2 separate regions of the Homo sapiens genome follow, and region 2 is linked to region 1. Evidence: fine-mapped expression QTL. A gene starts in region 1. The other region holds a variant in brackets. All regions are shown on one strand. Distances are from middle to middle. Region 1 holds the start of CNTRL (centriolin). Region 2 overlaps CNTRL (centriolin).

Region 1 (8,302 bases):
ACGCCCCTTCCCACCTGCCTTACGCTATGCATCTTTTCACCTATATCCTTTGTAATATCTTTTATAATAAACCAGTAAATGTAAGTAAGTGCTCCCTGAATTCTGTGAGCTGCTCTAGCAAATTAATCAAACCCAAGGAGGGAGTTGTGGGAACTCTGATTTATAGCTGGTCAGTCAGAAGCACAGGTAAAACTGAGGCTTACAGTTGGCATCAGAACTTGGGGGCAGTCTTGTAAGCCAGCCTTCAACCTTAGGGATGTGACGCTGTCTCCAGGTAGACAGTGTCAGAATTGAACTGAACTAGAGGACAGTCCTGTGGTGCCCACCACTGCAGAACTAACTGCTTGCTTAATGTGTGGGGGAAAATCCTACGGAATCATGTTGTGAGCGTATAGTGGGAGAAATTGAGTTTAATCTGTAGTCTCAGTAATACTATTTTTTTCTTTTTTTGAGACAGAGTCCTGCTCTGTTGCCCAGGCTGGAGTGCGGTGGTGTGATCTCGGCTCACTATAACCTCCGCCTCCCAGGTTCAAGTGATTGTCCCGCCCCAACCTACTGAGTAACTGGGATTACAGGTGCACAGCACCACGCCCGGCTAATTTTTTTTATTTTTAGTAGAGATGAGGTTTTGCCATGCTGGCCAGGCTGGTCTCAAACTTCTGACCTCAGGTGATCCACCCACCTCGGCCTCCCAAAGTGCTGGGATTACAGCCACCATGCCCAGCCCTCAGTAATACTATTGATGCTGCTAAGCTGCACTGGCATTCTCCTTCTAAATAAGGATAATACTCTAAAATTTGAGAAAAGCTAAGAGGCATGTGCTTAGGTAAAATCTTATTCCTAATTAAATGGATTAAAAGATGACATTTATTATAGTATGTATAGTACGTAGTTGGCGTTTTTTTCCCCCCTGAGGCAAGGTCTTTCTCTGTCACCCAGGCTGGAGTGTAGTGGCATGCTCATGGCTCACAGCAACCTTGCCTTCCTGGGCTCAAGTGATCCTCCTACCTCAGCCTCCTGAGTAGCTGGGACTACAGGCGCATATAACCACGCTTGGCTAATTTTTTATTTTTTGTAGAGATGGGGGGTCTCACTATAGTTCCCAGGTTGGTCTTGAACTCCTGGGCTCAAGTGATCCTCCTGCCTCAGCCTCCCAAAGTGCTGGGATTACAGGTGTGAGCCACTGTGCCCAGCCTGTAGTTTTTACATCCTAATGATCAAGACCCTTTAGGTCTCACCAGACTATCATGAGGTCCTTTATTACCTCTCCTGATTAGTAAAAGTCAGGCTTACTCATTCATAGACTTAAACCCTTGGTTGCCACAGCTTCTGTAAAGCTTGGACACTGAAACAAGATAGACGTAATCAGTCTCAGAGAATAGCTAACTCAGTGAAGTGGGCTTAGGGGTTTACAGTGTTTGAGAATGGCTGGCATTATTTCTTAGGCTACTGCCTGGAGGTGGTAAATGCTGAATTATAATTTTAATGGAGAGATGAGGATGTAGTTTGATCTAGGATGTTGTTTGCAATCACATGAACAAAGACCAAGCAAGCAATGGAAAAATGAAGACAACTGAGAGGTAGGCTAGGGCGAGTAAAGGAGCAGGATAAAGAGAAAAAAAAAGCAAATAAAGTTCAGAGCTGCAGTTGTATTTTAAAGGCTGTCTGCAGAGCAAGAGAAAGCCATTGGAATGACATGATAATCAGAATCCTACGTCCAGGCAACAAAACACTACCCATCCTGCCACCTATAAACCCAGATAGTTGCTCTGATCTAACAATTCAGTCCATCACAGCTTAGTACAGACTGCAAACTCCACCTCCATCCAGCCTTTCCTAACCTTCCTAACTTCCCATCTTCTCTGATCTCCAAATAACGCAGACCTCCTTCTGTCTCTCTACAGACTCCCTAATATGCAAATACCCATCCCCATTTATTAACCCCCATATCCCTCTCCTTAGCCCTTTAATTGGATTTCAGTACTTTCCAAGTCTACTTCATCCCATACCCTCTGACCTACTGAAATACTTTTACTCCTTAATCTTCTCCTCCTTTCAAATATCCTGATTCCGATTCCTCTGCAAAGTCTCCAGCCATTTTTCTTTCCAAAGCCAATTCCCCCATTCTGTGCTGCCCACCCACCTCTGCCTCCCATTCTTCTTTATCCCATTCTGATTGCCAATTTTCCCACAAATTCTATCCCAGTTCCCTAACACAGTAATAGTCTCCCCCATTTCTCTATGGTTCTTTCCTGTGCCCAGACTCAACATTTCTCTATCCATCCAGACTTCCCAAGCTGCTCATCTCTCTTCACCCCAGAAAATACCCTGACATCCTAATGCGTTCCAATACTCTGACCTCCAATTACTCCCCTCCCTAAACAAAATACTCAAACCTCCATCCATTCCTCTTCATCCCAACCCAACTGCCTGCCTATTTGCCTTTCCATCCTAATACTCTAGCCCCCGTATCCTTCTCCATCCTATTAAAAGCCTGAATCCCCTCTCCCATCTCTCTTCTTCTGCTCAGATACCCTAAAACTCAAGCTTCCCATCTCTTTCCATTAATTATTCAATTTTATTGAGCAACTTTTATGTAGGAAGAACCATGCTAGAATCTAAGCTCAAGATGCAGAAGATTTTATCTCCCTATTACCCATGATCTCTGCACCAAGCAGTCTCCTTCATAGCATTTTATAACCATTATTTGTGAAACTACTTGGTTGTTGCCTGTTTCTCCTTCTAGACTATAAGCTACAAGAGAGCAGAGGTTTTGTCTGTTGTTCTATAAACAATAAATATTTGTTGACTGAAGGACTGTACTAAACACTTAGACAATACCAAATTTAAATCCTCAAAGATTTAGCTGTATAGGATCAGAATTATTAACCTGATTTACAAATGGCAATGTACCTGAACAGTTAAAAGCTTGGATTCTGGAACGAAACAGCCTGAGTTCAAATTCTGATTTTCCACTTACTGTGTGATCTTAGGCAAATTACTTAACCTCTCTGGTCCTCAGTGCTATCACTTTTTAAATGGGGATGATAACCTCATACAAGTTATTTTAAATTCTAAATGAGGTTAATACGTGCAAAGTGCTTAAAACTGGATCTGACAAATAGTGAACACCCAAAAATGATTCGCAATTATTTGGACAAATGAGGAAACATGATCAGGAAGGCTCAGACACATATCCAGGGTCACAGACCTGGTTAAGTTACACAAGGTGGCAGAATTGAGGCTTCAACCCAAGTTTGTCTGGCTTCAAAATTCTCTAGTCCCTTAACGAATATAACGGAAGTGTTTGTTCTTCCCCTTCTTTTAGCATTTCGTCCCCATATCCTGTCATCTTTCTCCACGCACTGTACTCCGTCCGATACCGTGACAACCCGTCAGGACGCCCAAACTGTCCTTTCTCCCGCTCACTCCCCACAGACAGCTGGCACATCCCAGCTCTCCCCTCAGCTCAGGTGGCAGGACCCACAACCTTCTGGGCGCCGCACCCTAACTTCCACACCTCCCCACACTCTGGTTCTTCATCCCCAATCGCCCCCGCCGTCCCCACCTCTTCCCATCCAAACCTCCCTCCTTCATCCACCGCCCCACGCCCGTTCCGGGCCCTCCCCTCTTTCCCGTCCAATCCCAATTCCCAGACACGCGCCCCCGCCCCGAATCCATCCCAAGCCGGCCCACACCACGCCCGGTCCGGGCCTTCCCGCCTTTGCCGCCGGCCCCCACTGCTCGGGCCGGATGCCGGGGAACGGGCTCGGCCAGGTCTGACGCTCACCGCCTAGAAGCCGAGCCGAGCAGTCCCGCAGGCTGAGGTAGAGCGGGAGAAGTTCGGGCTCTTTCCTCAGGGGCCCAGCGGCGCGGCAGCCATTTTGTTGTGTTGTGCCGGTTGCCGAGGGGCCGCGCGCGCGTGGTCGGGGCTAGTCTCAGCCACGCCCCTCTCCCTCTCCGGTACTGTTGGAAGGGACGCGGAGGCGTTTCCCGCCTCTTTTGCAGCCAGCGCGCTAGGATGCCGGGGAGTCTTGGGCGCGAGGCTTCCGGCCGCGCGGGGCCGACGGGATGCGGTGCCTTCGCCTTCGGATTGCGTTGCAGGTGAAGTGTCGGGTGCAGAGTCAGGGGGAGCCGAGGTTTCATGCGGCAGCTGCCCGCAGTGCTGTGGCCTTCGCTGAGACAAAGCTGCCGCCGCCACCCTCTGAAACACGGACACGCTTCTCAGGGCCTGTGTCCGAGGACGGCCTGAGGCACCGGCGCAGCGCCTCCCCGGCCTCCCCCACTTCTGATGCTTGCGCGCTATGAGCGAGTGTTCTTATCAGCACACTTCTCTCTGACAGTCGTATCTAAAGCGAATTCCCTCCAGGGACCGAACTGCCCAGGCTCGGATGAACCTCAAAGCGGACGCAGCCTGGGCTCCAGCTGTCGCGTGAGGTTCAGGGAGCTTGGGAATCCTAGGCAGAGGATGTTCCTCTGATTGCTACAAGGGAGTTAAAGCAAGAAGCACTTGCACAGGCTTCATCTGGGGCTTGCCCATGAGCACGGCGTTCACGACATGCATTCAACAGATATTTTAAAGAATTTAGCAGATACTGGGCTGGATGCTAGGGAAACACTGAAGTTTTTTTTAAAGTGTTATCACCATTGACGCCTTTCACTCCAGTAGCCTCCCGTTTTGAAGGTATACCCTGGACCATGTTACCATCAGAGGCTGCACCCGCTCCAGAAATCCCCAGTGCAATCGCTCCCCATCCTTGACTATAATCCTATCATCTTAGCAGCGTGCCTGCTCAAAAGACCCCTATGCCAGCGTATTTCTAAACTTCCTTGCGTCTTCCAGTCCCTTGTTCTTACCATTTTCTCGCGATCATTCTATCCTGTCTTCATTTCCTTTCTTCACTACAGAGTTTATAGGCCACCTGTATAACACTTTTAGAAACTCCCTCTCTCTCTGTGTCTCAGTTTCCTTATCTATGAAATGAGGTCCTTTTACCTATTAACACTTCCTACAGTTTTCCTGATAATTATAAAAGTGAATCCTGGCCGGGCGCTGTGGCTCATGCCTGTAATCCCAGCACTTTGGGAGACCAAGGTGGGAGGATCACTTGAGGTCAGGAATTCAAGATCAGCCTGGCCAACAAGGTGAAACGCCGTCTCTACTAAAAATACAAAAATTACCCGGGCGTGGTGGCGCACGCTTGTCATCCCAGCTGCTTGAGAGGCTGCAGGAGGATCGCTTGAACCCGGGAGGCGGAGGTTGCAGTGAGCCGAGATCGCGCCACTGCACTCCAGCCTGGACGACAGAGCGAGACTCCATCTCAAAAAAAAAAAAAAAAAAAAAAAGTCCAGTTTTCCTGATAATTATAAAAGTGAATCTCTGTGAAAGAACTTAGAACAGTGAGGGACCCATAGTAAGTTCTCAATATGTCTTAGATATTTCATTATTAGACAAAGGTTACCCAGAAGCAATACTTCTTTCTACGCCCAAAAGAAGAGTTTAGGCAAGGAGTAGGGAGGTGGGGAAGAATTTGCTTGGCAAAGGGAACAACTTGTGCAAACCCCGGAAGCGGGGGAAAAGAGCTTGGCAATGTGCTGAATGTTAAGTAATTCAGTGTGGCTGGAACAAAACATGAGTATGGAAACATGAAGTAGTTCAGTATGGCTTGTGCAAAAATCTGGGGTGGAGAAGCTAAATCTGGAAAAGGGACCATATTATAAGCAGTATTAGGCACTTCATTTTTCCTTAAGGCAGAGATGGCTTCACCTCTATAGGAAATTCAGGGGACGTCCAACAGGGAATAAGCTGCAATAAACATGGGGATGCAGATGTGTCTTTGATTTACTTTGATTTACTGATTTCCTTTTCCTTTTACTTAAATGTGATTCCCATTGACATTTAAGTGAATGGTGCTGTCCTCTCCCCAACTATTTACACGACACAGAACGAAGCCCTTGGAGTTTAAACGCAGAATTTTTGAAAAGCTCCACTTAAGAGGAGATTACATTCATTTTTTTTCTTTTCTTTTTTTTTTTTTTTTTTTTAATTTTTTGAACAGAGTCTGGCTCTGTCACCCAGGCTGGAGTGCAGTGGCAGGATCTCGGCTCAGTGCAACCTCCGCCTCCCGGGTTCAAGCGATTCTCCTGCCTCAGCCTCCCGAGGAGTTGGGATTACAGGCACGCACCACCAAGGCCAGCTAATTTTTGTATTTTAGTAGAAACAGAGTTTCACCATGTTGGTCAGGCTGGTCTCAATCTCCTGACCTCACGTGATCCGCCCGCCTCGGCCTCCCAAAGTGCTGGGATTACAGGCGTGAGCCACCGCGCCCTGCCGAGATTACATTCATTTTTAATCGAAGTTCAGGTGATATTTATTAGATTGGAATGTGTACGTTGCTGAGTTTCAGTTCTATTTGCATATGTTTTGACACCCATCGTTTCGGTTTCTTGTACCCAGAAACTTAGATTTATTGCGTAACCTCATTGCTGTGTCCCTCAAAGTCTGTAATGGTATTCACGTGGGATCCATTATCAAGCCGTGGTGTGCTGATGTAGTTCATTATCAATCATATTAGTATCAATTAATAGCCATCAAATATACATAAAAAGTCCAGAGGGTGGCGCAAAACACTTTTCTCTTGGGTGATCTCTCAGTCCGTATCCAGTTAGCCGCGGATGGGCACTCACCGGTCCCATGTTGCCCCCTTTTCCTCCTCATACAGACCTCTGCTGGTGTCTAGCATCATCTCTAACGAAGCTAGAGACTTCAAAGGAGAGACCTTTCTCCAGTTAATTTGAATATTAACTGTCTCTCTTAGCATGCTAAAAGAACTTCCTTCTCCAAAGCAGAAGTGAGAATACGAAAGTAACGCAGACAACTCGCGTTCCACACTATTTTTCTTTATCTGATATTATGAAGAATGTACTCTGAGTTGCATTTACAATACAAATATTAGCCACGTCAGGGTGACCAAGCTTTTACTCAGTCTTTTTTCCAAATGATAGCAAAGCTATTCTGTTTAAACTTCCCTCAGCTTTTTGCAACCCAGTTTAATCATTTTGCGAATTTGTTTTAGAGAAGAAACAGACTAGTTTGTCAGACAGGGATGGCAACTTTCATTATTGCCATTTCTTTCTGTGACTGGCCAGTGTGATTTTGTTGTTTTGTTTTTTAAGACAAGGTCTCACTCTGTCACCCAGGTTTCAGTGCAGTGACACAATCATAACTCACTGCAGCCTTGACTTCTCAGACTCAAGTGATCCTCCTCCCTCAGCCTCCCAAATAGCTCAGTCTATAGGTGTGCACCACCACACCTAGCTAATTTTTAAACTTTTTGTAAAGATGGGGTCTTGCTGTGTTGCCCAGGCTGGTCTTAAACTCCTGGGCTCAAGCGATCCTCCCACCTCAACCTCCCAAAGTGCTGGGATTACACGCATGAGCCAGCATGCCCAGCCTGATTTTTTTTTAATTTTTATTCATTTATTTTTTTTTGTTTTTGTTGGTGTGTTTTGTTTTTTGTTCTTGTTTTTGTTTTTTTGAGACAGAGTCTCACTCTGTTGCCCAGGCTGGAGTGCAGTAGCACGATCATGGCTCACTGCAACCTCCACCTCCAGGGTTCAAACAATTTTTGTGCCTTAGCCTCCCCAGTAGCTGTGATTACAGGTGTGTGACTCCACGCCCAGCTATTTTTGTGTATGTGTGTGTATTTTTAGTACAGACAGTGCTTCACCATGTTGATCAGGCTGGTCTTCAACTCCTGGCCTCAAGTATCCGCTTGCCTTGGTCCCCCAAAGTGCTAGGTTTGTAGGTGTGAGTCACCATACCCAACCTTAATTTTTATTTTTAAATGACATGTAGTAACTGTACATATTTATGGGATACATAGTGATGTTTTAATACATATAAATGTATAGTGGTTGGAGTAATTAGCATATCCATCATCCCAAACATCATATGTTTATTTTAGGAAGATTTCATACCCTCCTTCTAGCTATTTGAAACTATATAATATATTATTGTTAACTATCCTCATCCTATAGTAAGTATAGAACACTAGAACTTATTGCTCCTATCTAGCTATAATTTTGTATCCTTTAAGATATCTTTCTCTCCTTCCCTTCCCCCTGCTACCCTTCCCAACCTTTAGTATCCTCTGTTCTACTGTTTACTCCTATGAGATCAACATTTTTCAGCTTCGACATATGACTGAGAACATGTGGCATTTAACTTACTGTTCCTGGCTTATTCACGTAATATACTGTCTTCCATTTCCATCCGTGTTGCTGTGAATTACAGTATTTC
Region 2 (8,335 bases), 54 kb before region 1:
TGCACAAGCTTCAGTAGCCAATTTGATCAAGTGGAAGAAAGGGTATCAGTGACTGAAGATCAAATTAACGAAATAAAGCAAGAAGAGAAGTTTAGAGAAAAAAGAGTAAAAAGAAATGAACAAAGCCTCCAAGAAATATGGGACTATGTGAAAAGACCAAATCTACGTTTGAATGGTGTACCTGAAAAGTGACAGGGAGAATGGAACTAAGTTGGAAAACACTCTTCAGGATATTATCCAGGAGAACTTCCCTAACCTAGCAAGGCAGGCCAACATTCAAATTCAGGAAATACAGAGAACACCACAAAGATACTCCTCGAGAAGAGCAACTCCAAGACACATAATTGTCAGATTCCCTAAGGTTGACATGAAGGAAAAAATGTAAGGGCAGCCAGAGAGAAAGGCTGGGTTACCCACAAAGGGAAGCCCATCAGACTAACAGCAGATCTCTCAGAAACTCTACAAGCCAGAAGAGAGTAGAGGCCAATATTCAACATTCTTAAAAGAAAATAATTTTCAACCCAGAATCTCATATTCAACCAAACTAAGCTTCATGAGTGAAGGAGAAATAAAATCCTTTACAGACAAGCAAATGCTGAGAGATTTTGTCACCACCAGGCCTGCCTTACAAGAGCTCCTGAAGGAAGCACTAAACATGGAAAGGAACAACCCGTACCAGCCACTGCAAAAACATGCCAAATTGTAAAGACCATCAATGCCAGGAAGAAACTGCATCAACTAACGGACAAAATAACCAGCTAGCATCATAACAACAGGATCAAATCCACACATAACAATATTAACCTTAAATGTAAATGGGCTAAATGCCCCCAATTAAAAGACACAGACTGGCAAATTGGATAAAGAGTCAAGACCCATCAGTGTGCTATATTCAGGAGACCCATCTCATGTGCAGAGACACACATAGGTTCAAAATAAAGGAATGGAGGAAGATCTACCAAGCAAATGGAAAGCAAAAAAAAGCAGGGCCTGCAATCCTAGTCTCTGATAAAACAGACTTTAAACCAACAAAGATCAAAAGCGACAAAGAAGGGTATTACATAATGGTGAAGGGATCAATTCAACAAGAAGGGCTGACTATCCTAAACATATATGCACCCAATACAGGAGAACCCAGATTCATAAAGCAAGTCCTTAGAGACCTACAAAGAGACTTAGACTCCTACACAATAATAATGGGAGACTTTAACACCCCACTGTCAATATTAGACAGATCAACAAGACAGAAGGTTAACAAGGATATCCAGGAATTGAACTCAGCTCTGCACCAAGCAGACCTAATAGATATCTACAGAATTCTCCACCCCAAATCAACAGAATATACATTCTTCTCAGCACCACATCTCACTTATTCCAAAATTGACCACATAGTTGGAAGTAAAGCACTCCTCAAAAAATGTAAAAGAACAGAAATCACAACAAACTGTCTCTCAGACCACAGTGCAATCAAATTAGAACTCAGGATTAAGAAACTCACTCAAAACCACTCAACCACATGGAAACTAAACGACCTGCTCCTAATGACTACTGGATACACAATGAAATGAAGGCAGAAATAAAGATGTTCTTTGAAACCAATGAGAACAAAGACACAACATACCAGAATCTCTAGGACACATTTAAAGCAGTGTGTAAAGGGAAATGTATAGCACTAAATGCCCACAAGAGAAAGCAGGAAAGATCTAAAATCAATACCCTAACAACACAACTAAAAGAACTAGAGAAGCAAGAGCAAACACATTCAAAAGCTAGCAGAAGGCAAGAAACAACTAAGATCAGAGCCAAACTAAAGGGGATAGAGACACAAAAAACCCTTCAAAAGAATCAGTGAATCCAGGAGCTGGTTTTTTGAAAAGATCAACAAAATAGATAGACCGCTAGCAAGACTAACAAAGAAGAAAAGAGGGTAGAATCAAATAGATGCAATAAAAAATGATAAAGAGGGTATCACCACCAATCCCACAGAGATACAAACTACCATCAGAGAATACTATAAACACCTTTATGCAAATAAACTAGAAAATCTAGAAGAAATGGATAAATTCCTGGACACATACACCCTCCCAAGACTAAACCAGGAAGAAGTTGAATCTCTGAATAGACCAATAACAGGATCTGAAATTGAGGCAATAATTAATAGCCTACCAACCAAAAAAACTCCAGGACCAGATGGATTCACAGCTGAATTCTACCAGAGGTACAAAGAGGAGCTGGTACCATTCCTTCTGAAACTCTTCCAATGAATAGAAAAAGAGGGAATCCTAACTCATTTTATGAGGCCAGCATCATCCTGATACCAAAGCCTGGCAGAGACACAACAAAAAAAGAGAATTTTAGACCAATATCCCTGATGAATATCGATGTGAAAATCCTCAATAAAATACTGGCAAACCGAATCCAGCAGCACATCAAAAAGCTTATCCACCACGATCAAGTCGGCTTCATCCCTGGGATGCAAGGCTGGTTCAACATACACAAATCAATAAACATAATCCATCACATAAACAGAACTAATGACAAAAACCACATGATATCTCAATAGATGCAGAAAAGGCCTTCAACAAACTTCAATTGCCCTTCATGCTAAAAACTGTCAATAAACTAGGTATTGATGGCACGTATCTCAAAATAATAAGAGCTATTTATGACAAACCCACAGCCAATATCATACTGAATGGGCAAAAACTGGAAGCATTCCCTTTGAAAACTGGCACAAGACAGGGATGCCCTCTCTCACCACTCCTATTCAACATAGTGTTGGAAGTTCCGGCCAGGGCAATCAGAAAAGAGAAAGAAATAAAGGGTATTCAATTAGGAAAAGAGGAAGTCAAATTGTCTCAGTTTGCAGATGACATGATTGTATATTTAGAAAACCCCATCGTCTCAGCCAAAATCTCCTTAAGCTGATATGCAACTTCAGCAAAGTCTCAGGATACAAAAATCAATGTGCAAAAATCACATGCATTCCTATACACCAATAATAGACAGAGAGCCAAATCGTGAGTGAACTCCCATTCACAATTGCTACAAAGAGAGTAAAATACCTAGGAATCCAACTTACAAGGGATGTGAAGGACGTCTTCAAGAACTACAAACCACAGCTCAACAAAATAAAAGAGGACACAAACAAATGGAAGAACATTCCATGCTCATGGGTAGGAAGAATCAATACCGTGAAAATGGCCATACTGCCCAAGGTAATTTATAGATTCAATGCCATTCCCATCAAGCTACCAATGACTTTCTTCACAGAGTTCGAAAAAACTACTTTAAAGTTCATATGGAACCAAAAAAGAGCCTGCATTGCCAAGACAATCCTAAGCAAAAAGAACAAAGCTGGAGGCATCACGCTACCTGACTTTAAACTATACTACAAGGCTACAGTAAACAAAACAACATGGTACTGGTACCAAAACAGATATATAGACCAATGGAACAGAACAGAGACTGCAGAAATAAATAACACCACACATCTACAACCATCTGATCTTTGACAAACCTGACAAAAACAAGAAATGGGGAAAGGATCACTAATAAATGGTGCTGGGAAAACTGGCTAGCCATATGTAGAAAGCTGAAACTGGATCTCTTCCTTACACCTTATACAAAAATTAATTCAAGATAGATTAAAGACTTACATGTTAGACCTAAAACCATAAAAATCCTAGAAGAAAACCTAGGCAATACTATTCAGGACATAGGCATGGGCAAGGACTTCATGACTAAAACACCAAAAGCAATGGCAACAAAAGCCAAAATAGACAAATGGGATCTAATTAAACCAAAGAGCTTCTGCACAGCAAAAGAAACTACCATCAGAGTGAACAGGCAACCTACAGAATGGGAGAAAATTTTTGCAATCTGCTCATCTGACAAAGGGCTAATATCCAGAATCTACAAAGAACTTAAACAAATTTACAAGAAAAAAACAACCCCATCAAAAAGGGGGCAAAGGATACGAATAGACATTTCTCAAAAGAAGACATTTATGCAGCCAACAGACACATGAAAAAATGCTCATCATCACTGGCCATCAGAGAAATGCAAATCAAAACCACAATGAGATACCATTTCACACCAGTTAGAATGGTGATCATTAAAAAGTCAGGAAACAACAGATGCTGGAGAGGATGTGGAGAAACAGGAATGCTTTTACACTGTTGGTGGGAGTGTAAACTAGTTCAACCTTTGTGGAAGACAATGTGGCGATTCCTCAAGGATCTAGAACTAGAAATACCATTTGACCCAGC[G/A]ATCCCATTACTGGGTATATACCCAAAGGATTATAAATCATGCTACTATAAAGACACATGCACACATGTGTTTATTGCGGCACTATTCATAATAGCAAAAACTTGGAACCAACCCAAATGTCCATCAACGATAGACTGGATTAAGAAAATGCAGCACATATAAACCATGGAATACTATGCAGCCATAAAAAAGGATGAGTTCATGTCCTTTGCAGGGACATGGATGCAGCTGGAAACCATCATTCTTTGCAAACTATCACAAGGACAGAAAACCAAACACCGCATGTTCTCACTCATAGGTAGGAACTGAATAATGAGAACACTTGGACACAGGGCAGGGAACATCACACACCGGGGCCTGTCGTGGGGTGGGGGGAGGGGGGAGGGATAGCATTAGGAGATATACCTAATGTAAATGACGAGTTAATGGGTGCAGCAAACCAACGTGAAACATGTATACCTATGTAACAAATCTGCATGTACCCTAGAACTTAAAGTATAATAATAATTAAAAAGTATATAAAATCATGTAGAAATTACATATGAGGAGATAAAGCAAATGTGTTAAAATAGTAATTGGTGACTCTCGGTGAAAGGCAAATGTGAGTTATTTGTATTCCTCTTGCAACTTTCCTGCAAGTTTGGAGTTATTTCAAAATATAAGCTTTAAAAAAAAGTTGGACAACACTACAGCGTTGGCAAGGATGTGGCAAGAATGGTAGCCCCCACATTGCTGGTGGGAGTAGAAGCTGATAAACTCACTATGAAAAGTAATTTGACAATATCTACTGAACTTAATGAAGGATGGACATACTCTGACCCACAGTTCTGCTTCTGAGCATAGTCCCCATGTGTTCAAGATGTGTGCAGGAATGTTATGCTCAGCATTGTTTGCAATAGCATAACACTGGAAATCACCTAAATGCACCCCAAAAAGAGAAGGAATAAATAATAAATTTGTGGTATGTCCATAAAGCAGGATGGTACATATATCAGTAAAAATGAACAAAGTAGAACTACATCTATCAGTGTGCATAATTCTCGAAAACATAGGCCAGGCGCTGTGGCTCACACCTGTAATCCGAGCACTTTCAGAGGCCAAGGCAGGCGGATCACCTGAGGTCGGGAGTTCGAGACCAGCCTGACCAACATGGAGAAACCCCATCTCTACTAAAAATACAAAATTAGCCGGGCAGGTGGTGAATGCCTGTACTCCCAGCTACTCGGGAGGCTGAGGCAGGAGAATCGCTTCAACCCAGGAGGCGGAGGATGCAGTGAGCCGAGATTGCGCCACTGCACTCCAGCCTGGGCAACAAGAGCGAAAATTCATCTCAAAAAAAAACCAAAACAAACAAACAAAAACATAAACATGAAGGAAGAAAGAAAGTGGCCAAATATGTACACTATGATACATTTTGTATAAGTCTTAAAATCAAGGAAAATACTATATATTGCTTATGGATGTTTACATATATAATAAAAGAATAGAGGTGCAGGGAAATAATAACCATATTCAGAACTTTGTTACTTCTGGAAAGGAGTAGACAGAGGATTTCAAATGTACCTATAATGTTTTATTTCTTAAGCTGGGTTGTCAGTACATGATGTTAAATATTATTTGTGATTTTTTAAATATGCCTGAGATATTTCATAATATTAAAATATATTAATTCAATTTCTGGAGCCAGCTCTACTGAACAAGAAGTTTGGAAATCTCTAGTTCTCATGTATGATAACATTTTCCAAACAACTAAAATAGAGCAAGGGAAATCTCCAAACGAATGTGCAACAAATCAGGTTCATAAGGATATAATTTAAAACAATATGTCTGTTTTGTTAGCTATAAAATAATGTTAAAATTATCCAGTAACAACAAGACTAAGAAAAACCATTCTGTGCTCAATTTTTCAGCACAAATAAAATATGAGCATTTAATACAATATTTGTAATAGCTACCATTTCATATTCTTTAGAGTTATTTGGCAACAATACCTTTCAGGGATAGAAATGCAGCTTAAATAATCTTCCTTTTCTGAGCAAAGAAAAAATAATAATTCCAAATGTATCACAGCTAAAGAAGAAAAAAAAAAGCCCAACTGTTAAAAGAAAAAAATCACCATATAGCCACTAATACTTTTTCCCACTTAAAAATGTACTGTTACCTCCTCCAACTAACTTAATTTGGACATTATCTACTTATGAAGCTACGGAAAATAGGCAGGAAAAAAATCATACCTTCCTCATATTTTCTGCATCCATGGCAACTATTTCCAGCTGGTCTCTCTCCTGCTCGACTTCTGTCAATCTCTGCAACAATGTCTCTTTCTCATCCCGCAGCTTCCTGCACTCATTCTGGGCCTGAGTTGCCTGGCCTTTAATGGTCCCCAGGTATTCTTGCAACCCACTGATAACACCTTCTAAATCCTTCTTCAGGGCTTCATTTGCTGCTATCTGGCCTAAGCAAGATGCAAAAAGGGTAATAATATATCTTTTTAAAGTACTGCATTGTCTGCTCAGCATTTTGTTATAAGCCAAGAGTGAAATTCTAAGCTTTCAATTCTTTCCTATCATTTTTCTTTTTCAAAACATAATGTTAAATTTTCTTCCTATTATAGATAGCAAAGGAGTATTAAGCAGGTATAAAATAAAAATAGTACATTTAGGGGGCAATGCTTATAAAATGCCTGATTCATGCTGTAAAAAGTTTAATTTCGGCCGGGTGTGGTGGTTCAAGCCTGTAATCCCAGCACTTTGGGAGGCCAAGGCAGGCGGATCATGAGGTCAGGAGATCGAGACCATCCTGGCTAACACAGTGAAACCCCGTCTCTATTAAAAATACAAAAAATTAGCCGGGCATGTGCCTGTAGTCCCTGCTACTCACGAGGCTGAGGCAGGAGGATCACTTGAACCCAGGAGGCAGAGGTTGCAGTGAGCCAAGATCACGCCACTGCACTCCAGCCTGGGTGACAGAGCGAGGCTCCGTCTCAAAAAAAAAAAAAAAGTTTAATTTACAAATAAAATAAAAAATATGTACCAAAACTGTGAGTTCTTGCTGCTAAATACAAAGAACAAGACCACCTAGTATATAAGATGAATCCAAGACTGGCAACATAAATGTGTAACCTAAACACTTAGAACACAAACACACACATCCCATGTACAGTACTGGATACGCACTATGTGCCAGGAACTTTATGAACACTATCTCTCTCTTTTTTTTTTTTTTTCAGACAAAGTTTCACTCTGTCACCTAGGCTGGAGTGCAGTGGCACAATCACGGTTCACTGTAGCCTCAACCTCCCTGAGCTCAGGTGATCCTCCACCCTCAGTCTCCCAAGCAGATGGTGCCACAAGCACACATACCACTACGCCTGGCTAATTTTTTTTTTTTTTTTTTGTAGAGACGGGGTTTCGCCATGTTGCCCATGCTGATCTCGAACTCCTGGGCTCAAATGATATGCCCGCCTCAGCCTCCCAAAGTGCTAGGATTACAGGCGTGAGCCACCACTCCTGGCCTATGAATACTAGCTCATTTAATTCTCCCAACAACTAATGATTGAGATAAAAACAACTTGTCCAAGGCGACACAGCTGACAGTAGCAAAACAGAGAGCAGGATCTTTTTACACTGAGCCCTATGTGTAAAAACCACTATGGCCTATTGTCTTCCTTTTCCACTATTATGGATATGTCGCAGTTTAAATCAGCATTGCAAAACTAGATCCTAAAACTCTTTCTTCTTATAACCAGACACTGAATTCCCTGATGCCAATGGGTGCTTTGCTCCTGAATGGATTTTATGTCATAGACAATCACATGCCAGAGCTTATCATGATCACGTATTGACTTCTGGCCTACTGACTGGAATGACCTGACTCACTAGGCATCAATGCCACAAAACAAAACAAAAACAAAACTCTTAAAATTGCATTAACTACTTTTGGGTATCCTGTAAATATTTCCCTATCAAATACTAGTACTAATAGGTGAACTGTATTTAGCTACTATCTGGATTAATGCTTGTCTTTATAATGTTTCTTTTACCAGCAATAACACTGATTTACC

What was found. PIP is the estimated chance that this variant, and not a neighbour inherited with it, causes the effect.
Region 2: its variant is fine-mapped to the expression of CNTRL in whole blood (INTERVAL, PIP 0.96).

Annotation. Positions count from the first base shown.
Region 1 is chr9:121,070,556-121,078,857 of GRCh38, reverse strand. CNTRL (centriolin) reads right to left here and starts at 3,903. Exons shown (of 44, transcript NM_007018.6): 1 at 3,791-3,903. It also overlaps a transcript of C5 not described here. RefSeq lists silencers at 3,499-3,638, 3,759-3,818, 4,443-4,639 and enhancers at 3,939-4,328, 6,682-6,731.
Region 2 is chr9:121,124,108-121,132,442 of GRCh38, reverse strand. It overlaps CNTRL (centriolin), which reads right to left. Exons shown (of 44, transcript NM_007018.6): 14 at 6,507-6,727. Among named protein-coding and RNA genes, the nearest start is that of CNTRL, 53 kb to the right of the region's middle. The variant G/A (reference allele first, on the strand shown) is at 4,272.